Linked DNA regions of Homo sapiens. The protein of the gene in region 6 purifies or fractionates together with the protein of the main gene of each other region. This does not show direct contact. Each region holds a gene or a part of one and is shown on either strand. Other genes may lie near its edges. The genes, in order: NPTN, SEC62, SNX25, GNPTAB, SLMAP, SLC35F3 and RANBP2.

Evidence for each region.
Region 1: the proteins of SLC35F3 (region 6) and NPTN purify together in Homo sapiens (affinity purification with mass spectrometry; one large-scale study listed by BioGRID and IntAct). This does not show direct contact.
Region 2: the proteins of SLC35F3 (region 6) and SEC62 purify together in Homo sapiens (affinity purification with mass spectrometry; one large-scale study listed by BioGRID and IntAct). This does not show direct contact.
Region 3: the proteins of SLC35F3 (region 6) and SNX25 purify together in Homo sapiens (affinity purification with mass spectrometry; one large-scale study listed by BioGRID and IntAct). This does not show direct contact.
Region 4: the proteins of SLC35F3 (region 6) and GNPTAB purify together in Homo sapiens (affinity purification with mass spectrometry; one large-scale study listed by BioGRID and IntAct). This does not show direct contact.
Region 5: the proteins of SLC35F3 (region 6) and SLMAP purify together in Homo sapiens (affinity purification with mass spectrometry; one large-scale study listed by BioGRID and IntAct). This does not show direct contact.
Region 7: the proteins of SLC35F3 (region 6) and RANBP2 purify together in Homo sapiens (affinity purification with mass spectrometry; one large-scale study listed by BioGRID and IntAct). This does not show direct contact.

The regions. Positions count from the first base shown.
Region 1 is NC_000015.10:73,623,390-73,626,889, reverse strand, and holds part of NPTN (neuroplastin isoform b precursor), read left to right. Parts: intron 1-3,500. UniProt on the Homo sapiens protein: Probable homophilic and heterophilic cell adhesion molecule involved in long term potentiation at hippocampal excitatory synapses through activation of p38MAPK. May also regulate neurite outgrowth by activating the FGFR1 signaling pathway.
Region 2 is NC_000003.12:169,994,307-169,997,806, forward strand, and holds part of SEC62 (translocation protein SEC62), read left to right. Parts: 3' UTR 1-3,500. UniProt on the Homo sapiens protein: Mediates post-translational transport of precursor polypeptides across endoplasmic reticulum (ER). Proposed to act as a targeting receptor for small presecretory proteins containing short and apolar signal peptides.
Region 3 is NC_000004.12:185,216,098-185,219,597, forward strand, and holds part of SNX25 (sorting nexin-25), read left to right. Parts: intron 1-3,500. UniProt on the Homo sapiens protein: May be involved in several stages of intracellular trafficking.
Region 4 is NC_000012.12:101,747,980-101,750,959, reverse strand, and holds part of GNPTAB (N-acetylglucosamine-1-phosphotransferase subunits alpha/beta precursor), read left to right. Parts: intron 1-1,768; coding exon 1,769-1,859; intron 1,860-2,980. UniProt on the Homo sapiens protein: Catalyzes the formation of mannose 6-phosphate (M6P) markers on high mannose type oligosaccharides in the Golgi apparatus.
Region 5 is NC_000003.12:57,909,809-57,913,308, forward strand, and holds part of SLMAP (sarcolemmal membrane-associated protein), read left to right. Parts: intron 1-2,078; exon of another isoform or gene 2,079-2,113; intron 2,114-2,330; coding exon of another isoform or gene 2,331-2,383; exon of another isoform or gene 2,384-2,572; coding exon 2,573-2,893; intron 2,894-3,349; coding exon 3,350-3,467; coding exon of another isoform or gene 3,468-3,500. UniProt on the Homo sapiens protein: Associates with the striatin-interacting phosphatase and kinase (STRIPAK) core complex, forming the extended (SIKE1:SLMAP)STRIPAK complex.
Region 6 is NC_000001.11:234,322,844-234,325,011, reverse strand, and holds the end of SLC35F3 (solute carrier family 35 member F3), read right to left. Parts: intron 2,005-2,168; coding exon 1,769-2,004; 3' UTR 501-1,768; downstream 1-500. UniProt on the Homo sapiens protein: Mediates thiamine transport.
Region 7 is NC_000002.12:108,764,482-108,767,981, forward strand, and holds part of RANBP2 (E3 SUMO-protein ligase RanBP2), read left to right. Parts: coding exon 1-3,500. UniProt on the Homo sapiens protein: E3 SUMO-protein ligase which facilitates SUMO1 and SUMO2 conjugation by UBE2I. Involved in transport factor (Ran-GTP, karyopherin)-mediated protein import via the F-G repeat-containing domain which acts as a docking site for substrates.

The DNA.
Region 1 (3,500 bases), on a different chromosome or scaffold from region 6:
ACTTCAAATTTACTAGACAGTGAAATATAAATGAGATGGTATGAAATCACTCTGAAAGTATTAGGGTTGGATATATTATGTAAGTTTCTATAATTAGAAAGCATTAAGTCCCAAATCGTACCAATAGTTTTAATCATATCTAAATGGATACTCACATACTAAATGTGATTAAATATAAAATGCATAACGAAATGTCACATCCTTTCCTGATAGAATACTAATAAGGCATAGTATTTCATGTGCAGGAAGATACAGGAAAACACACAAGTAAGAGTTTGTTTTGCATATATAAATTGTTATGCCTTTGAGATTCTTTTCTTCCTGATGGTAGGATTTGGAAACCATTGGACTAGATGATGTCTAAATTTCCTTTCAGTTCTAAAAATTACTAAATATCTTGCCCTTATAGCTTAGATACTGTCTCCAATAGGTTAAAGGCTCAGAGATGATAACACTTTCTGTTTAAAAGTTTTTAGAAACTTACTTTTGAATATAATGAAAATTAACTTTGAGGCATGCACTGTTTTGAAATCTAAATGCCTCTAAATCTACTTCAGACAACCCTTGCAGTTCTTGTTTCAAGGGAGGCAGAACCGTGTCTGTTATGCAGAGATCTTATATTAAACTTGCTGGGAAAATTGCCAGTGTGAATAAAGAAGTGAATATTCCTGCCAGGTAGGTAGGTATTTTATGATCTTTCTGTTGGCTGAAAGTGGTTGACTAATAAAGAGACAATGAAACACACTTAACTATTTGTATTTTTATGTTATCTTTCGAGAAAGTTTGTTTTCTATATATGAGTTAGTTTCTGCAGTCCCTTATGCATTTTTTAAGACCTGGAAATCCGTCCATTATAGTCGAAGAAGGCAACCCCAAGTGTTAACTGAATTAAATCCTAGCAAGTTCCTTGATTGTTATTCCTTAGAAACATTGTGTTTAAAGGTCTCAAGTTGTAAACATTCATGGTACTACTTTGTTATCTGTTAGGTCCATTTCTTTTCCTTTTTTTCTTTTAGATCTTTAGAATTTCAAACATGTACAAAAATAGATTAAGTAATGAATAAACCCCTGTGTATTCATCATCTAGTTTCAGCTACACCCTTGCTACTTATTAATTTAAAAATAACCTAAAAATTACATTGCAAACTAGAATTTTCTAGGACCTGAAATGTAGTCAGTAGGGGTTAGTTTATATGAGTAAAAGATAATATTTGGTTCACATGTAATCATGTTGAAATTACTTGAAAAATAAAGCTCTTGGCCGGACGCGGTGGCTCACTCCTGTAATCCCAGCACTTTGGGAGGCTGCGGTGGGCGGATCACGAGGTCAGGAGATCGAGACCATCCTGGCTAACACGGTGAAACCCCATCTCTACCAAAAATACAAAAAATCAGCCAGGGGTGGTCGCCGGCACCTGTAGTCCCAGCTACTCGGGGCTGAGGCAGGAGAATGGCGTGAACCCGGGAGCCGAGAACATGCCACTGCACTCCAGCCTGGGTGACAGGGCCAGACTCCGTCTCAAAAAAAAAAAGCTCTTTAGAAAAAGGCTTTCAAACTTTTTTGTCTGTGACCCAGATAGAGAAGTAGTTTTTGACTAATAGAAATTTATAACAAAATTACACAAATATGTAATATCTTGTGAAACATTACCTATTATTAATCTGTGTGAGGTAGTTAAGAGAACCATAGTGACCTTCTAAATTGAATTCACAATTCATGGGCCGTGAAACTCAGTTTGAAAAACAGCATTTTCAGGTATGGAGTAGTTTGGGGCTTTTGTTTATTTTTTACATGCCATGTTAGTCTGGAATAATTATGATTTTTGTTAACACAAGGATTTTCACTAGACATTTATCAGTAATATCAGCATATACTGTTATTAGTCATTATGAGTAAAGAAAATAAAACATTTTGGATTTATACATTAGCCATTATATATAGCGATTTTTTTTCCTTTTAGAACTTTAGAAAAAGGGGAAGCCACAGTAATTTGAATATAATCAAGACATAACTTTTCCAGTATATTCAGTTGACCTTCCTTTTAAATTAGACCTTGTGTTCCTTATTCCTGAGCCTTTGAGTTTGCAGGGCTGGGAGTACTAATGTTTATTCTAAGCCAAATGCTTTACTTGGTTGCTGTAGTCTGAGGCACATTTCTGTTGAGTACAGATTGACTTGAATACTGGCCAAGGGAAGAGAGAGAGAGGGTAAGCAGAACCATCACTAAAGAATCATCTGCCGTTCATGTTTAAGATCCTAGAGTAGTGGGATTATTTCCTAGTTTTTAGACACTGCTTCCTGGAGGAAAAAAAGGCAACAAGATGTCCTCCTTTGTTGGCAACTATCTGTGAAAAACTTCTAAATTCATAGATTGAAGGAATGTGTTAAATTTAACTTGGGATTTTTTTGATTATACGAGTTTAGCAGGTTTGGGAATCATTGCCGAACAACTGGAAAAAAATAGCACAAGGAGCTCCAGCATTGAAATTATATTCATTAATGCTGAATCTCAAATCGTGCATCAAGGGAGATGAAATAAATGGCCTTAATGCAAACCAGGAAACTGCTACCTGGAAAAAAGCAAGTATAAAGAGGTTTCAAATAGCTTGCAGTGAACTGTCATTGAATTACCCTTACACAAATAACATAGTGATCACGTATCAAAAGTATGGTGCTAACCTAACAGCATTACTGTTTTCTACTAGGATTGAACTCCAAATAAGAATACTTTCTAACCACATTTTGGAAGAGACATAGAATCTATGTTGATGGTAGCTTAAGATTTAGGAGAAAAGCCTGAAGGAGCTAAACTTAGGAACAGGGAGCACTAGGGGGATGTGATTATCTATTAATACTTTCAAGGTAGCAGTGTAAATGAAGTAAGGGAATTAGGCAGTCTCCAAAGATGGATGGGCTGTATCAAAGAGCAATGGCCTAGAGCACAGGGAAGAAAGCATAGGTTTAGTATTAAGATGATTTTAATGAAACTAGCGGAAGAATAGAGTTATTTGCACTCATCGTCAGAACCATTATAAGTAGGACAAAGAGCTGGTTGAGAGGGTACTCAAAAACAGAAATGATCTCTTTCTTACATAGTACTGTGCTTGTTTAGAAGCTCAATGAGAGAAAAATATGGAAATGAATATGAAATGAAATGGACTTTTCAAAAGTTAGTGTGTTTTTCTGTTGTTTGTTTTGTTTTGAAACAGGGTCTCACTCTGTTGCCTAGGCTGGAATGCAGTGGCGTGATCATTACTCACTGCAGCATCAACCTTCCAGGCTCAGGTGATCCTCCTGCCTCAGCTTTCCAAGTAGCTGGGACCACAGGCGCATACCTCCATGCCTGGCTAATTTTTGAATTTTTTGTGGAGATGAGGTCTCCCTATGTTGCCCAGGCTGGTCTCAAACTCCTGGACTAAAGTGATCCTCCTGCCTGTGCCTCCCAAAGTGCTGGGATTACAGGCATGAGCCACAGCCCCCCTGCCAGCCAGAAGTTTTT
Region 2 (3,500 bases), on a different chromosome or scaffold from region 6:
AACTAATAATGAATATTAAATGATTTTTCTTCAGTCACAGTGAGAGCATCTTGCTTTGTGGTTGAAATAGGTAGTGTATGTCAGTCTTTGCTTTAGGCTGTTTCTCATCTAAGTGTTTGAATTAAAGATGTTAAATTTTTCTAATTGTGAAAAATATGTTTTCTGTATCGACACATTTTATTAAACTTGGCTTGATTGCTTCTTTATAGTAGTCCCTGTAAGTGGACATAAATGTGGCTATTTGATGTTAATGCAACTATGTCAAGGCTGCAATCACTTTAATAGTTTCTTTTTAGCAAATAAATGTTCATTGATGAAGTGCCTGGGTATTTTCCCGTCCCATTTGCAGAGCTCTACTACTTCATTTCCACAGTAAGCATATATATAATGATCACTTCTGAGTTTATCACCAGTAACATTGATACCTATTTTGGGGTATAAACATGGTGTTTTTCAGAAATAAAAATTATTTCATTAACCTTTACTATTACTGTGATAATACCCAGGCACTCAATATTCATCCTGAAATTTTTTATAATATATGTAATTTGTCTAGTCTTAAAGACATTTGGAGCATGGCCAACAGGAAGGTCAGCTTCTTACTGATGTGTGTGGATTCTTACAGAATGTTAGTACAAATTTTTATAAATATTTGGTGATCCCTGGGGGGAAATATCATTCTTACTATGGTTAGAAAGTGAATTAGAAATTTCAGCTCAGTTTCTATTTTACTATTCAAGTTGTGTACTTTAAACAAATATAAAAATCAAAAGGCTGCCTCTATTACAATCCTCAGTGGAATAGATGGCTATCTTTCTTGGCTAACATTAAATATTCTTGTACCAGAGCATGGAAAATCGTTTATAATTGTTAATAGAATGGCGATTTTTTTTTAAGAACTTCAGATTTGCTATGCTGCTGTAAGTAGAAAGCATGAAGCTTTTTGATCATGTAGGGCTTATTGTAGAGGGTATCAATTGGCCTAACTAAGCAGGATTGAATTTACCAGAGGCTAAGTTCAGATAGTAAGAATAATGCATATGTGATTGTTCTTAAAGTCAATGTATTAAATAAGGTATTTTTCCTTTTCCCTCTTACTGGATTTTTCAATTTTCAAACCATATGGCCTAGGTAACTTTAATTGAAATAATATAGATTTAGTTGAATACTATTCAGGAAGTAATAAATTTTAATATATCACATTGAAATTATGCAGTGGTGATGAATTTTGGTGTTTCCCCCCTCTTTCTGGTTTTACATCATGAGGATCAGTTAGCTGCTGACAAGAAAAGTCATCTTGTGTCTTTTGTAAATTGAATTTTTTTTTTAAATCTATTAGGAACTGGAAAACAGCAAGTATGGTTGATTCTCATTATTCAAGGTAGTTACGTTCTATAAAGTCACTGCGAACACTGAATTAGCAAATATAGAACCTAGGGGAAATACAAGGCTAGATTTCTGCAAGCCACTGGTCACATTTTCATCAAGCAGTCAACATGTAAATTTCTGTTGTAAAGACACCTTATTTAATATAATCGATTCATTAACATTGAAGTCATGACCAACAACACTGTAACTCATGCCTGAATGAAGCTTATCTGACACATAAGCTTCATAAGGCACACAACAGCCTTTTTACCCTTAGGAACAGCTTTTTGCCCTTAGCACTATGCTTGGGGGCCATTTTAAACAGTGAAATCAAAAAAAGAACAGAAATGCAAAAACCATGGCATTAGCGTAAAAAGGACACGTTTATAGTATGAAAGCTGGAACATGGCCTTGTTCAACCTCAGCTCAGAATATGTGTACAGCAAGTTTTTTGCTGTACCACAAAATTTTAGGTTAGGCAAATTCACAAATACGGAATCCATGAATAACGAGGATCAACTGTACTTAACTATATTTTAAAGCTGTGACATTTATCTACCTGGTTTATGGAATAGAATTTATTGCTGAATCATGCTCCAGTATTTGAGTGATGTTTTAAATATCCTATGTCTGAAAATAATTCCTCCTAATTGTGTGGTAATTTGCTTTTACTGTTTCCACAGTATTTCAGGTCTTTGCTCATTCACTCAGTAATACTGAGCACTTACCATGTACCAGAATTTTACTAGGCACAACCATGAATAAAAATACAATTCTCTTGCACCATTAAATAGTGTGTTAAGTGCTACGGCAGCAAATTGCTACATGTGCTGGATATCTCTTGTTTTCCCCTCCAGCTCCACTCTGCTCTTGCCCACAAAGCTGACCCGAATGGACCACAGCAGTGGGCTCCTATGCCTCCTGGCTTCTGAGTGGGTTTGGCCAAGGAGTGTCCTGGCCAGAGATCAGAGGATGGTAGGGTGCCTATTCTCGGCTCTTCTCCTGGGGTTGGGGGGCTGCCTTAGCAGCCAAAGGTCACTTCTCCCAAACTCCTTCCCTGCTTTCCAGGTTGCCAGTCCCTGCACTCTTCCTTTCTGGCCAAGGATGATGTCAGTTCTGCTGCTACTAGCCTGGAGTTGCAGAAGCTACTGTGCTTCCTCTTTGGGTAGCCTATACCTATACTTATCTCCTCATAATATCTTCATGTAAAGAACCATCTGTTTCTTATTGGAATCAAGACCAATACCAAGGAGAAATTCCTAGGGAACAAAAATTCCAATGAGGAATTGACCTCTTTGTCAGATCCTTATCACCAAACATTAGAAAAGATCTCATAACTTTATACAGCATGTTGTAAGCATTTTGATAACTAAAATCCTGTTCTAGTGAATGTCATGCAGATAACTACACAAGGAGATTAATTTAAATTTGCCTTCTTTGGCAAGCCCTTAAACCAATGGCTAAAGCAGTTAGTTGTGAGTTTCTGAGTAGGTCCCAATGCGTTTATTTCATTTGTCCAACCTAGCACAGAGATCCTTTGATACTTTAATTGCATGGCTTTTCCAATCAGACGAAATTTCAGTCTGAGAGAGGACATATTTTCTGAGGTTTATAGTTTTAGGATTGTCCAAAAGGCCTATGATCTCTTCTTAGCATGACAGAAAGAGGGAAAGATAAGTTAAATTTCAAGGGGGTCATATCATCACACTTTGGTCTTATTTCATTTTCAATGATTTCCTAGATCACTTTAACTTTTTTGTGTCATGGACTCCTCAGAATAATGGGTTTTTTTTGTTTGTTTGTTTGTTTGAGATGGAGTCTCACTCTGTCACCCAGGCTGGAGTGCAGTGGCGAAATCTCAGCTCACTGCAACCTCCGCCTCCTGAGGTTCAAGTGATCCTCCTGCCTCAGCCTCCCAAGTAGCTGGGATTACAGGCACATGCCACCACACCCAGCTAATTTTTGTATTTTTTAGTAGAGACAGGGTTTCACCGTGTTGGCGAGACTGATCTTGAACTCCTGACATCAGGTGATCCACCTGCCTCGGCCTCCCAAAGTGCTGGGATTACAGGCATGAGCCACCATGCCTGGCCAGAATAATGTTTTTAAATGCAGAAAAGGAAATGCATGGG
Region 3 (3,500 bases), on a different chromosome or scaffold from region 6:
AAATTCATTATTTTTTAATTTAGTTTTTTCCATAGGTTGCACAATCATATGATTTTAAAAAAAGTGTACAGAAAGGTATACAGTGAAAAAACATCTTCCCTCTAGGCAGCCACTATTAACAGTTTCTGTTTATTCCAGATATATTTGACATACATATAGGCACATACACACATGTATTCAAAAGGAGAAGTTTTTGATACATATAATATTGGTATGTGAACAGTGATTACACATAAAGGAAAGTTTTTCTCTGTATAATCTGTCGTGATGGAACTATTAAGATCAGTCAGCATAAGATGAAGTTGTATATGAATAGTGATAACTTCAAAGTGTGAAGGTACAATGCATGATTAAACCTGGGACAAAAAACAATGCTAATCAAGTGTACCCAGGAAATGACAAAAGTGTGTATTTGGTTTTTTTTTTTTTTTTTTTTTTTGAGATGGAGTGTTGCTCTTGTTGCCCAGGCTGGAGTGCAGTGGCACAATCTCAGCTCACTGTAACTTCTGTTTCCTGGGTTCAAGCGATTCTCCTGCCTCAGCCTCCCGAGTCACTGGGATGATAGGCGCCCGCCACCACGCCCGGCTACTTTTTGTAATTTTTAGTAGAGATGGGGTTTCGCCATGTTAGCCAGGCTGATCTTGAACTCCTGACCTCAGATGATCCACCCGCCTTGGCCTCCCAAAGTGCTGGGATTACAGCTGTGAGCCACCTCGCCCGGCCGACAAAAGTGTGTATTTGAATTTAGCAAAATCATCTAAAGGAAGCAATATGTGTTCTTCTAAGTTTTAAAAACCAACAAAATGGGTCCAGAGTACATGTACCGTTTGAGATTTGACTTACCAGTGAGTATATGAGATGACTCATAGGAGCTAGGATTAGAAAGGTAGTGTTGGCCAGGTTGTGGAAATGCCGTGGAGTAGAACTGAATTTTAGTCTTCAGGCATGGTCACTGTTGGCATTTTCTGAGCCCAGGAGTGATAGCATCAGAGCTGGGCTTTGAAACGTTGAATGGATATGTGATTGGGGTGGACTTAAAAGGAGAAATACTGGCCGAGTGCAGTGGCTCACGCCTGTAATCCCAGCACTTTGGGAGGCCGAGCCAAGGTCGCACCACTGCACTCCAGCCTGGGTGATAGAGTGAGACTGTGTCTTGGGAAAAAAAAAAGAGAAATACTGTGTAGCTGCAATGATAAAAAGTGAGAGTTAATGAAGCTGTGTGAATGGAGACAACAGACAGTACATTCAAAAGTGAGTGAGACTTTTCTTTGATACAATTCTCATTATTTATCATTACAATAGGTTCAAGAATATTCTCAGGAGGGTCCTAACATTCCTTTTAAACAATAAATTCAACCCCAAACCAAAGGATCCCACAATATATAGCAGCAGATGTATCCTAGGAAAGTCTTCCAAGTTGAATGTTCTACTTGGCACCTTCTTAATTCTGGTCATTCCCAGGGGATTTATTTCTCACTCTTGAATCTTCAGCTGCTTTTGTTTTTGAAGCATACGATGTCACATTGGTAATGGTAATTGACTGTTGCCTTCCTAAAAATATCTTAGGCTTCGTTTCCCAACCATATCATTTTGGGGATAGGAAGTGCCCTAGATTCCTTAAAATGTAGGATTCTTTATAGTCAGAATGGTACACGTGGTTGTGCTAAAAAGGTGACGCAGCAAGTTTGGTGCCGAGCGTTCAGGACACAGAAAATGCACAGTGTCTGTGGAAGGCTGTTAGGACTGAAATAATTGCATACCACCTTGCCAGCATTTTTAACATTGCAACTGTACTTTTGAAGGAAAAAGATTGCAAACTCAGAACCTGTATTTTTATCCTTCACTGCTGTAGGTCACCTATGCCACCTAGGTTGCTTGGTTGAATGGGGATGACAGGTAGGTAGGCAGCCCTTCGCAGGGGCACTCCTGGATACCCTAAGGGCCGGGATTTAGGTCTAAGTCACACCCTGCTTTAGTCTAGGAGTGTGTGCTTCTATAGTTTTTTGAGGCGGAGTCTGGCTCTGTCACCCAGGCTGGAGTGCAGTGGCACAATCCTGGCTCACTGCAACCTCTGCCTCCCGGGTTCAAGTGATTCTCCTGCCTCAGCCTCCCAAGTAGCTGGGATTACAGGCGCCCGCCATCAAGCCTGGCTAATTTTTGTATTTTTAGTAGAGACGGGGTTTTGCCATGTTGGCCAGGCTGGTCTCGAACTCCTGACCTCAGGCGATCCGTGCCCCTTGGCCCCAGAAAGTTCTGGGATTACAGGCATGAGCCACCACTCCTGGCCTGCTTCTGTAGTTTTTGTAAGTATGGTGGAGCTTTCCAGAAATCCCAGCAGGTTTGCATGTATGTTGGTGGGCCTCTCAGCCCAGGTGCTGCTTTGGGAGAAGGCAGCTAGGTGTGTGAGGTATGCCTGCTTTGCCCCTGCAGCTAGCCAGCACTCAGCAGCCACTCTAGGCACTTGCCAGTCCTGGTATGTTTGTCAGCCCAGGGTTTCTAGGTATGAGTAGCCACAAGCTGGATGTAAAGAAAAATGAATATGGTAACTCCAAGTAAAATGCTTCTGAAGCAAAGAGGGGAGCAAGGAATTGTGCATCCTTAGGATAAGACACATAACTTGTTTATTAGGCTACTAGGATCTATTCAATAGACTTCCTATTTTAGTGTAGAATATACCTCTTGGAAAATTAGATAAATATTTTACAAATACTCATTGCTACAGTAACCTGAATTTCTGTAGTTCTCACCCACCTGTATATACGGGTGAGTTTACATAAATTAAACTAATTTTAAAGTTTTTTTTAATGAGGTTCTGATCTCATACAGAACCTCATCCTCTTGCAGTACTCCTACCTTCTTGCTCTGCCACCCCATCAGCATTTCTGGGAGCCCACAGACAGTGTCCCATGTATTTGGGGATAATCTCAACTTACATTCTTCCATTCCTGGTGCTTGCAAAGCACTGGAGAGAGGTCCCTGTGCTATGCCGCCACTGCCAGTCTGTGAGAAAGACGTTCCCTGTTGGGGTACTCCTGTCTCAGTCCTCCAGAGCTGAATGTCTGGAGGGCCTTGGTCCGTCTTTCGGGGTTTATCTAAGCCAAGGCCACATGTATGCTTTATAGAAGCTGGCAGGCTAGCCCTGTTTCTCTCACTTAGGCATGTTTTTAAAAAATGTTTTTGGGCTGGGTGCAGTGGCTCACACCTGTAATCTCAGAACTTTGGGAGGCTGAGGCAGGCGGATCACAAGGTCAGGAGATCAAGACCATCCTGACTAACATGGTGAAACCCTGTCTCTACTAAAAATACAAAAAATTAGCCAGGTGTGGTGGTGGGCGCCTGTAGTCCCAGCTACTCAGGAGGCTGAGGCAGGAGAATCGCTTGAACCCTGGAGGCGGAGGTTGCAGTGAGCCAAGATTGTGCCACTGCACTCCAGGCTGGGACGACAGAGCAAGACTCCATCTCAAAAAAACAAAAAAAGAAAAAAGAAAAAATGTTTTCTT
Region 4 (2,980 bases), on a different chromosome or scaffold from region 6:
TATATAAGCATTTCACTAGTCCTAGAAACAGTCAGTCAGGTGTGAACCAAGGATACAGCCTAGGCAATAAAGAAAAAGCAATAGACGAACTGGGAGACACTTTAAAAGGGAAATTGGCAGACCCTGGCACTAGAACTCCTCGGTATCTTGGAGTTGGGCAAATGAGACAATTAGGATGAATATTGCTGCTATCTTTATGTTTTTATTTTCATAAGGAGAAGTTATTACTGAATCATGGGTCTTGTCTCCCAGAAATGGCAAGGAATGGCTTCTCACCGTTTTCACTTTCCCTTAACTCAGAGGAAAAAGATCTTTAGGTGGTTCTAAGTGTTAACTCCCCAAATTCAATTTGTGACTAAATTTACCCTCAAGGGTCCATTTGAATAAGAAAGAAGTGGGCTTAAAAGTAATTTGAGAGGACCTTGATTTCTGTGCTGTACAAATGGTGTGAATCAGGTGTGGGTGCTCTTGCAGTCATTCCCCTGCCCTGGAGGTTGCTTGCTCCTCATCCTGCTTAGTTCTGCATTGTCTCTCACTGCACTGACACTAGACATTAGTTGACAGAGCTGGTTATGATCCTATTAACAGAAGTGGGAAATACAGGGGGAAGAGCTGTGTGTGGGCGAGTGCCGTTTTGGATGTGTGACTTGAGGTAGAGACGCCCAAACAGTGGAAAATGAGAATCTGTAACTCAGCACAGAGGCCAGAGTTTGGTAGTTACTAGCATATCTTCCAAACCTATGGTAAGCATTTTTATTTAATCTTCGTAACCAATTGTTCATTATTTCCAAATTACAGATGAGGAAATGGCTGTACTGCCTCTTTTTATCCTCAGTATTCTCTTGGCTCCAGGTCCAGTTGATTCTACCTCAGGAATGTCTCTTCTGTTGCTTATTTCTTTTCATTGTCACTGCTTCCTTTCATGCCTGGACTAAAACTAAACTGCCTGCCTTCCTTGTTTGTCCATCCTTCAAATGGCCAACATGTTTACCCTGATTATGTCACACATACCCCCACCTGTCTGTTTCATCCACTTTCCCACTAGAGTGTTCTGTCCAGACCCCACGGTGTGGTTTTGCAAAGCAGCTGCAGTTCATACCCTCTCGCCTTCACCTGGCTTAGTTCCCCCCATGCTGCCGCATGGATTCACTCCACTCAGTCCTGTAGGGCCCAGCTGGCCACCGTGCCACTCTACTGCTCCTTCTCTTTCTCATCCATATGCTTCCTGTCCCCTTCAAGGCTTACAGGAAATGCCACCATCTCTGTGGCACTGTCCTCATTTCTCTAAGTTTTTCACATGACTTTGCTTTTGATAATGCATATTTCTGTGTCTTATGTGATGGCAAGTCATCAGTCAGCATGTCAGCAACGCCTCAGTTTTCTAAACACTTAAAAGCAGGGACTTCATCTTGTTCATCTCTCCATATACGCAGGAAGTATTTATCAAGAAACTGAGTGAATAAATAAGTATGAGTGAATAAAAATGAATGAAAGAGTGGTTTTGTTTAAGTGCCAGAAGTAATTTTCTTTTGAAGTCCTCTCTCCTGCCTGGATAACTTCACTAATTCAAGTATAATATTTACTATGACATAATAAAAAATCTGAACTCGTGTTGGAAATGTATATTGTGTGAGCATTTTAGAATTGCAAGACAATGTTTTTGTGTTTCCCAACATTGTTTTTATAGAACTAGTATATAAATAATGCTTAACTAATGGTAGTGAAACCATATACAGAAGTACATAGTTGCTTTCTTCTCTCTGCACAGGAGGGCTTATCGAGACAAATTGAAGTTTTGGACCCATTGTGTACTAGCAACATTGATTATGTTTACTATATTCTCATTTTTTGCTGAGCAGGTAAGTTTTATATATTTTATGTGGGTATTAAATGGTATTTCTTGGTATACTAGCATCTGAATGTTTTAGAAAATGATACACATTTACAATCAAAATTTTAACTTCTCTTATTGTCTTATAGCTCATATGTGAATATGTTAAATATGTTTCACAATATTCAGGCAGCAAATATAACAGTCTTTTATTCATTTCTCTTCTAAATCCATTACCAGTATTCTTTTTATCTGGAACTCAACAGATTAACTTGTAGATATCAGGCTAAAACCAAGTAGCTCTAAGTATTTATAACCAAAAAACCATCTAGAATCCTTATCTAATGTTAATTTTCTATGGGTCTCCAATTTTCTTCCTCTCTTTCACGCTTCCTTGAGTGAGCACAGTGTCTTCAGACATCCCACGGTTCCGTTGTGTTGTCCCACTCACACCAGTAGCTCCCATTTATCTTTCTTTCAATCGCTAGGAGTTCTCCCTCCTCTCTCCTCCTTCCTCCTCTCCTTGTCAGCCCCTCTACACCTGGGCTTTCCTCTGCATGCATGTACACACGCAGCCTCCTTGAGGTGAGTGTCCAGAAGTCGGAGGGAGATTTGTGAGGTAAAGAGAAAGGGATAAGAGAGTCCTCATTAGGCTATTCACATATCAAATACTCTGAAGAAAAAGGATTGAAGGAGGGGAATGGGCATCTTTACCAACCTGACTTGGGTGTGGCAAGTGACTTGGCCTCTGCCTCCAATCAAGGTGACTATTGAGTGGAGCTTTTCTAGCTGTCACTCAAATGAAACGTACACCAAGTTGACTTATACCAAGAAGGACAAGCACCTAAGTACTGAGAGCTTCAGGATAAATGAATGGGCTTCTTGCTGTAAATGGAAGGAAATTCAGGAAACAGAGACTGGGCAGGTGAACAGGACAGCAACTTAACCTTCATCTGCTTTCCAGGGATTGTACATCTTGTTCTTGATGTCTGTTACCATTGTTCCTGGCAGGTAAAAGTCTTATGAAAAATCTCAGAAAGGCTGTACCTGCTTTTAGAACAGGGTCCAGTGAGAAACCTTTGAGTCTGCTGTGCTGACCTAGGATGGGGAAGGAAAGGAGCCCTGACTCAAAGGAGCAGCCATTAATGG
Region 5 (3,500 bases), on a different chromosome or scaffold from region 6:
TCCATGTTGGTCAGGCTGATCTCAAACTCCCAACCTCAGGTGATCCACCAATCTTGGCCTCCCAAAGTGCTGGGATTACAGGTGTGAGCCACTGCGCCTGGCCTATTTTTTTTTTTTTTTTAAAGAAAATTCAAGGGAAGATTGTCCAGTACTCTCGTATTAGACACTTAGAATGGAAAAAGCAGAGGTGAAGATTTGGAGTTGGTAAGACTGTCACTTTCTGAGTTATGTCGTGAGTTCCTACAGAGGGCCTTTGGATAGGAAATCTGTTTGAGCTACTCTGCGTCAGCACTTTGAGCTTGCTGGTATATGTATATATTGATGGCTGGTGTAGATATATTGCCATCTAATGCTCAGAACACACTTGTATTGCAAGAAAATATTTTTTTGCTTGTTTTTTTGAGACATAGTCTTGCTCTGTTGCCCAGGCTGGAGTGCAGTGGTGATCTTGGCTCACTACAACCTCCGTCTCCCGAGTTCAAGTGATTCTGGAGCCTCCCAAGTAGCTGGGACTACAGGTGCATGCCACCATGCCCAGCTAATTTTTGTATTTTTAGCAGAGATGGGGTTTCACTATATTGGCCAGGCTGGTCTCAAACTCCTGACCTCGTGATCCACCCACCTTGGCCTCCCAAAGTGCAGAGATTACAGGCATGAGCCACTGCACCTGGCCTCAAGAAAAATTATATATCACGTGGAATAGGATAGTAGTCTCTGCACTGATTTTCGTTGATAATGGCTGTTCTTCTTATCACCATTTTGCTATTTCTTTGTCTGGGCTATTACAGGGTTATTACAGAAATTTCCAGAAAGACCCCTGCCTGTCGAATGTTTACTTCAAGCTTGAGCTCCTGGTATATTATGAGGAAATTATATGATACCCCAGGAGAGGTCTTCCTTTCCCATGCCATTGTAAAATTCCTAAAGTAAAATTAATTTGCCTTCTTGTCAAAGAAGGAGCCAATGTTGTTTTAAAATTTTAGCTTGAGAGATAGGTGGGGAAGAAATTAAATAGACAAGTAATCACTATTCAGAAGAGAAGGGAGAGTCATTGTACGAGGCCCAAGATACTTGCCCAAAAATATCGCAGAGAAAAACTAGTCTTTGGGGTCCTATTTTTTGAGTGGAACATTTGAGTTATTTAAAATTAGAATTTTATTTTGGTCAGATTAGAATTTCTAGGGTATGTCATATGTGTTTTTAAATTGAAAGCTCTTAAAACTCCTATTGTAGTTTAATGTCATTATCCATTAATTTACATAAATCTGATTTGGATCTCTATTTTCATCGTAGACTGTGTAGGGGCAATTTTTCCTAAAGGTTCTGTGACATAGTGCTACCTTTTTTTTAAAACCTGTCTTGCCCAGGCATTATTGAGTGCCCCCTGGTGCCAGCATGTGTATTTCACGACTGTATCAACAAATCATGATCATCTTCTCTGGCCATTGTGCCCTTTCAGATTCCAAACTTGTTACCTCTCAGTCCTTCCTACAAACTTAGAAAGTCTAATATCTTAATGTTTACTTATGTAGCAACCTCCCTTTCTCCCATCCCTAAATCCTCTTGTAATTAATTATTTTCCTTTGGAACTTTTTAAATCTACAATTTCCTTATAATATGGTAACCAATATTAATTTTCTTGTTCTGCGCCAAGTTTGATTTTATACAAATTGTTTCCAGTTTGGGTCATGAGCACAAAACCAGGTATTTTTAAAAATCTATATAACCCTTCAATGAGGCAGTATTAATTTTATTAACTCATTAATTCAACCAATAATTCTTGATTGTTTACTGTGTTAGATATTGGGGTATCCCCAATACCTGACAGCTGTGAGCAAAACAAATGCCCTACACACATGAGGTGTACAGTCCAGTAGAAAAGATAAACAATAAGCAAATTAATAGATAATATGATGTCCAATAAGGACTTCAAAGGAAAATAAAGCAGAGTAAAGAGCCAGAGAATGACAGTGAGCTGTTTTTCACATGAGTCATCAGAAAAGGCCTCTTTAAAGAATTGACATTTGAACAGAAAAACGAATCAAGGGCGTCAACTGTTTATTGCTTTTATTGCTTACCATTTGACCAAGCAATTCTACACATAGGATTCACCCTAAAAAAAAAAAAAAAAAAAAAAAAAAGGATTGTATATAGTGTTTAAACACTGAACAGCCTAAAATGTCAAAAATAAAGGGTTGGGCAAATAAGTTATATATACTATAACTATTTTTTTGTTGAAAGAGTTTCATCAACAGAAGGATAGGGAACACTGCATTTATTGTGATCACTCCCTATTTAATGTTTGTTTTTACATGTTTATAAATGCATAGGAAAAAATCCAGAAGGAATATCAGAAGTAATTTTCTGTGTGTTGGGGAGATGAAGATCACTTTGGTTTTTTTTTCCTCTTTGCTATCTGTATTTTGACGCTTTCTGCATCAAACGTGGATTGTTTATACACTTTAATCAAAAGCAACAGCTCTGACAACCCAGGTTATGCATTAGCTACAATCCTGTATGGATTATTCTTTTATTCTAATGGGCCAAGAAAATGATGGATATACTTTTGCAGCCCAATTGCAGAGGTTACACATCGATACTGAGAATCTCCGGGAGGAGAAGGACAGTGAAATCACAAGTACTAGAGATGAATTGCTTAGTGCCCGAGATGAAATTTTGCTCCTTCATCAAGCAGCAGCAAAGGTTGCCTCTGAGCGGGACACTGACATTGCTTCTTTACAAGAAGAGCTTAAGAAGGTGAGAGCTGAGCTTGAGCGGTGGCGGAAAGCAGCGTCTGAATATGAGAAAGAAATCACAAGTCTGCAAAACAGTTTTCAGCTTAGATGTCAACAGTGTGAGGACCAGCAGAGAGAAGAAGCAACAAGGTTGCAAGGTGAATAAATGTATTTTACATAAAGCTGTTAACTTTTGACAATGATAACTTCTTAACTTGTTTAAAAAAGAAACATGCAGGCTTTTTTTTTCTTTGTTAGCTATCAGTTGTATAAACCAATGTTTTTAAATCGGAGCTAAAAATGTATTTTCAGGTCTGCAAGTTCTACTTAAATTTATATTTTTTTACGGTTTTATATTTTATTTTAAAATTGTTAAAAATTGCTTGTCTTATAAAAGTGAAGTGGAAAAAAATACTATTGTTCAAGTACAAGCTGATAGCAGTCCTTGAGGTATACATGCAAAGTAACAGGAATCATATAATTAACCATGTAAAATCTACTTGCTTTTAAGGGGGCAAAAAGTATGTTCTCCTCTGAAATCTTTTCCTTTATCCTTTGAAGTATTATGGAAGTTATATTTCTGTATTAACAAATATGTTTTGGGACTATTTTAGGTGAACTAGAGAAGTTGAGAAAGGAATGGAATGCATTGGAAACCGAATGCCATTCTCTAAAAAGGGAAAATGTTTTGCTATCATCAGAACTGCAACGGCAAGAAAAAGAATTGCACAAGTATGCAAGAACTCTCTGTTTTTCAGATATAAA
Region 6 (2,168 bases):
GAGCAATCAAATTATTGAAAATGCCAGCATTAAGTTAGGATGCCCAAGGCAGGCAGGCGGCTGTGGGGGCTGAGCTGGAAGACTGGGTAGATTTATGGACTGGGGCTGCCGCTCTAGGTGGCACTTAGAGACCAGTGTAAACTGAGCTGCGGATCCCGTTCAGAAGAAAAAGTGAGAAGGAAGCCACAGGCAGGGCTGAGCGGAGGGCAGGTGCCTTGAGGGAGAGGGAGAGGAACAGGGGAAAAGTGGAGGAGGGAGAGGCTGCCCCAGGACTTAGAGCTTCTGTGAGGCTTTGGGGATGCTTCTGCATTTCACTTTTGCAAAAGTCAATTCTATCGATATTACAGTCTCCTTCCCTTGAGACAGATGGGCTGGCTTACCCACCCTGAAGGTTCTTGGGGGCAAGTGCAATTGAGGAAAAGCCAGAATGTGGTGAGGACTGCTTCAGGACTGGTGCAGTGGGAAAGTAACAGAATGGCCATGGAGACAGCACTGAACGCTTCTTTTTCAAATATTTTATTAATCTGTTTGGCCAAACAGGTAATGGAAACTGAGAATAATAATTTGCTAAAAAGTTCAGGTCATGAATGCCCCTTTCCCCCAGGAAACAGAAGACTCCATGGTTACAGAATGCACCATTGGGTTATGACAACGTTTCAAAATAATGTTTCCATTTCATATGTAACAATGTAAACTTCAAAAATAGTAAACTCTAACCCCTGACCCTCTTTACAGATCTATCACAGATAGAATTTTCTGGCAGACCTAAATTGTGTAAGTAAACAGCCTGGTGCTTAAAAGTTTCATAAAAAGGTTTACAGATTTCAGTAAATAATTTTTCAGTCTTGGTCAGGAAGTAAAAGCAGCCAGCAATTCCCCTCCTGCACAATGTACCTTATATGGGTATTGTACACCGCGGGCCACGCTCTGTATACACTGGCCATCAGCTCTGTCATTTTTTTGTACACAGACATACACATATATAGAGAGTTTTATTTGTTTCTAAAGATTTTTACATCTAAATTATAAGACGGCGCCAGTGACGTATCACGTCACCTCGCTTCACATAGGTAAAGACGAAAATTCTGTAGAAGGCACTGTGATTTCTCTTGCATGATCTTACACAGACACGTGAGAGCAGGCCAGCCGGGGCTTGGACTTATCTTGTCCTTCCTGGTACCTGGCACAGACCTGTCCTCTGACAGTTTTTGATGTTCATCATCCATTTCTGCCTTGCCTCTTCACATCCCAGACATCCTTCCCTCCCTCCTTCCATCCCTCCATCCATCCATCCAAATAAATTGACAGTTATCTTTTGGTTCATTGAAATTCCTTAAAATTAAGAGTACAGCTCTGGTATAAAACAAAATATGACCTACCATAGCTGAAAAATAATCACAGTGTGCAATGTCATGTTCAGTTGCTAAGATTCAAAACACTTGCTAAGATTCAAAACACTTGCCCTGATGGCTGGCTTGTCAAGAACGTCAGCCATCCAAAACGATCTACGCAGGGAACTTTTAAACCCACTTTACATTCGTTGGAAAAGCACTGAGAGGTTCTTCTTTTCTCTTTTGTATTGAATTGGTACCCTTAAGTGGAAGGTCTGATGTGGAAAAGTGCAAGCAAATTGGACATGCCAATAAATACCATAGAACTTACCGCAGATGACCAAAACTGTACAGGTATGTACACCTTACCCAACTGAGGTTCCTCCCGGCAGGAATAGACCTCCCAGTCATTACCACCGAGTTCTAGAGGAGTGGTGTTAGCGGGCGAAGGAAGGGCGGGCTCTTCTGTTCTTGCTCTGAGGTCCTGAGCTCAGGTCGGCAGCGCCCTCTGCAGGCTCCTCCTTCTTCCTCACTTTGAGTCGGGTGAGCAGCTTGATCAACCAGACATCCCACTCCTCTGGCAGGAGCAGGAGGAGAAAACCCAGGCCGATGATGATGATGGCGATGACCCGGACCCCATTGAAGACGATCTGACTGGTGTAGTGATCAATCACTGTGGGAGACAGAGCATGGAGGTTTCTCAGCTGCAGGGTTGGGGGCATGTCCCTGGAGAGTGGGCAGGGCCTGGGGGCACCCTCCTCTGTCTGGCAGTGTTGTGGTCTTCCCTGGACCACAGGATTCTCCTCAGTATGATTTTGTTCCAGGTGGGCTGGGGTT
Region 7 (3,500 bases), on a different chromosome or scaffold from region 6:
GCGTCAAATCAGGCTGTCAGAATTGTAAAAGAACCCACAAGTCATGATAACAAGGATATTTGCAAATCTGATGCTGGAAACCTGAATTTTGAATTTCAGGTTGCAAAGAAAGAAGGGTCTTGGTGGCATTGTAACAGCTGCTCATTAAAGAATGCTTCAACTGCTAAGAAATGTGTATCATGCCAAAATCTAAACCCAAGCAATAAAGAGCTCGTTGGCCCACCATTAGCTGAAACTGTTTTTACTCCTAAAACCAGCCCAGAGAATGTTCAAGATCGATTTGCATTGGTGACTCCAAAGAAAGAAGGTCACTGGGATTGTAGTATTTGTTTAGTAAGAAATGAACCTACTGTATCTAGGTGCATTGCGTGTCAGAATACAAAATCTGCTAACAAAAGTGGATCTTCATTTGTTCATCAAGCTTCATTTAAATTTGGCCAGGGAGATCTTCCTAAACCTATTAACAGTGATTTCAGATCTGTTTTTTCTACAAAGGAAGGACAGTGGGATTGCAGTGCATGTTTGGTACAAAATGAGGGGAGCTCTACAAAATGTGCTGCTTGTCAGAATCCGAGAAAACAGAGTCTACCTGCTACTTCTATTCCAACACCTGCCTCTTTTAAGTTTGGTACTTCAGAGACAAGTAAAACTCTAAAAAGTGGATTTGAAGACATGTTTGCTAAGAAGGAAGGACAGTGGGATTGCAGTTCATGCTTAGTGCGAAATGAAGCAAATGCTACAAGATGTGTTGCTTGTCAGAATCCGGATAAACCAAGTCCATCTACTTCTGTTCCAGCTCCTGCCTCTTTTAAGTTTGGTACTTCAGAGACAAGCAAGGCTCCAAAGAGCGGATTTGAGGGAATGTTCACTAAGAAGGAGGGACAGTGGGATTGCAGTGTGTGCTTAGTAAGAAATGAAGCCAGTGCTACCAAATGTATTGCTTGTCAGAATCCAGGTAAACAAAATCAAACTACTTCTGCAGTTTCAACACCTGCCTCTTCAGAGACAAGCAAGGCTCCAAAGAGCGGATTTGAGGGAATGTTCACTAAGAAGGAGGGACAGTGGGATTGCAGTGTGTGCTTAGTAAGAAATGAAGCCAGTGCTACCAAATGTATTGCTTGTCAGAATCCAGGTAAACAAAATCAAACTACTTCTGCAGTTTCAACACCTGCCTCTTCAGAGACAAGCAAGGCTCCAAAGAGCGGATTTGAGGGAATGTTCACTAAGAAGGAAGGACAGTGGGATTGCAGTGTGTGCTTAGTAAGAAATGAAGCCAGTGCTACCAAATGTATTGCTTGTCAGTGTCCAAGTAAACAAAATCAAACAACTGCAATTTCAACACCTGCCTCTTCGGAGATAAGCAAGGCTCCAAAGAGTGGATTTGAAGGAATGTTCATCAGGAAAGGACAGTGGGATTGTAGTGTTTGCTGTGTACAAAATGAGAGTTCTTCCTTAAAATGTGTGGCTTGTGATGCCTCTAAACCAACTCATAAACCTATTGCAGAAGCTCCTTCAGCTTTCACACTGGGCTCAGAAATGAAGTTGCATGACTCTTCTGGAAGTCAGGTGGGAACAGGATTTAAAAGTAATTTCTCAGAAAAAGCTTCTAAGTTTGGCAATACAGAGCAAGGATTCAAATTTGGGCATGTGGATCAAGAAAATTCACCTTCATTTATGTTTCAGGGTTCTTCTAATACAGAATTTAAGTCAACCAAAGAAGGATTTTCCATCCCTGTGTCTGCTGATGGATTTAAATTTGGCATTTCGGAACCAGGAAATCAAGAAAAGAAAAGTGAAAAGCCTCTTGAAAATGGTACTGGCTTCCAGGCTCAGGATATTAGTGGCCAGAAGAATGGCCGTGGTGTGATTTTTGGCCAAACAAGTAGCACTTTTACATTTGCAGATCTTGCAAAATCAACTTCAGGAGAAGGATTTCAGTTTGGCAAAAAAGACCCCAATTTCAAGGGATTTTCAGGTGCTGGAGAAAAATTATTCTCATCACAATACGGTAAAATGGCCAATAAAGCAAACACTTCCGGTGACTTTGAGAAAGATGATGATGCCTATAAGACTGAGGACAGCGATGACATCCATTTTGAACCAGTAGTTCAAATGCCCGAAAAAGTAGAACTTGTAACAGGAGAAGAAGATGAAAAAGTTCTGTATTCACAGCGGGTAAAACTATTTAGATTTGATGCTGAGGTAAGTCAGTGGAAAGAAAGGGGCTTGGGGAACTTAAAAATTCTCAAAAACGAGGTCAATGGCAAACTAAGAATGCTGATGCGAAGAGAACAAGTACTAAAAGTGTGTGCTAATCATTGGATAACGACTACGATGAACCTGAAGCCTCTCTCTGGATCAGATAGAGCATGGATGTGGTTAGCCAGTGATTTCTCTGATGGTGATGCCAAACTAGAGCAGTTGGCAGCAAAATTTAAAACACCAGAGCTGGCTGAAGAATTCAAGCAGAAATTTGAGGAATGCCAGCGGCTTCTGTTAGACATACCACTTCAAACTCCCCATAAACTTGTAGATACTGGCAGAGCTGCCAAGTTAATACAGAGAGCTGAAGAAATGAAGAGTGGACTGAAAGATTTCAAAACATTTTTGACAAATGATCAAACAAAAGTCACTGAGGAAGAAAATAAGGGTTCAGGTACAGGTGCGGCCGGTGCCTCAGACACAACAATAAAACCCAATCCTGAAAACACTGGGCCCACATTAGAATGGGATAACTATGATTTAAGGGAAGATGCTTTGGATGATAGTGTCAGTAGTAGCTCAGTACATGCTTCTCCATTGGCAAGTAGCCCTGTGAGAAAAAATCTTTTCCGTTTTGGTGAGTCAACAACAGGATTTAACTTCAGTTTTAAATCTGCTTTGAGTCCATCTAAGTCTCCTGCCAAGTTGAATCAGAGTGGGACTTCAGTTGGCACTGATGAAGAATCTGATGTTACTCAAGAAGAAGAGAGAGATGGACAGTACTTTGAACCTGTTGTTCCTTTACCTGATCTAGTTGAAGTATCCAGTGGTGAGGAAAATGAACAAGTTGTTTTTAGTCACAGGGCAAAACTCTACAGATATGATAAAGATGTTGGTCAATGGAAAGAAAGGGGCATTGGTGATATAAAGATTTTACAGAATTATGATAATAAGCAAGTTCGTATAGTGATGAGAAGGGACCAAGTATTAAAACTTTGTGCCAATCACAGAATAACTCCAGACATGACTTTGCAAAATATGAAAGGGACAGAAAGAGTATGGTTGTGGACTGCATGTGATTTTGCAGATGGAGAAAGAAAAGTAGAGCATTTAGCTGTTCGTTTTAAACTACAGGATGTTGCAGACTCGTTTAAGAAAATTTTTGATGAAGCAAAAACAGCCCAGGAAAAAGATTCTTTGATAACACCTCATGTTTCTCGGTCAAGCACTCCCAGAGAGTCACCATGTGGCAAAATTGCTGTAGCTGTATTAGAAGAAACCACAAGAGAGAGGACAGA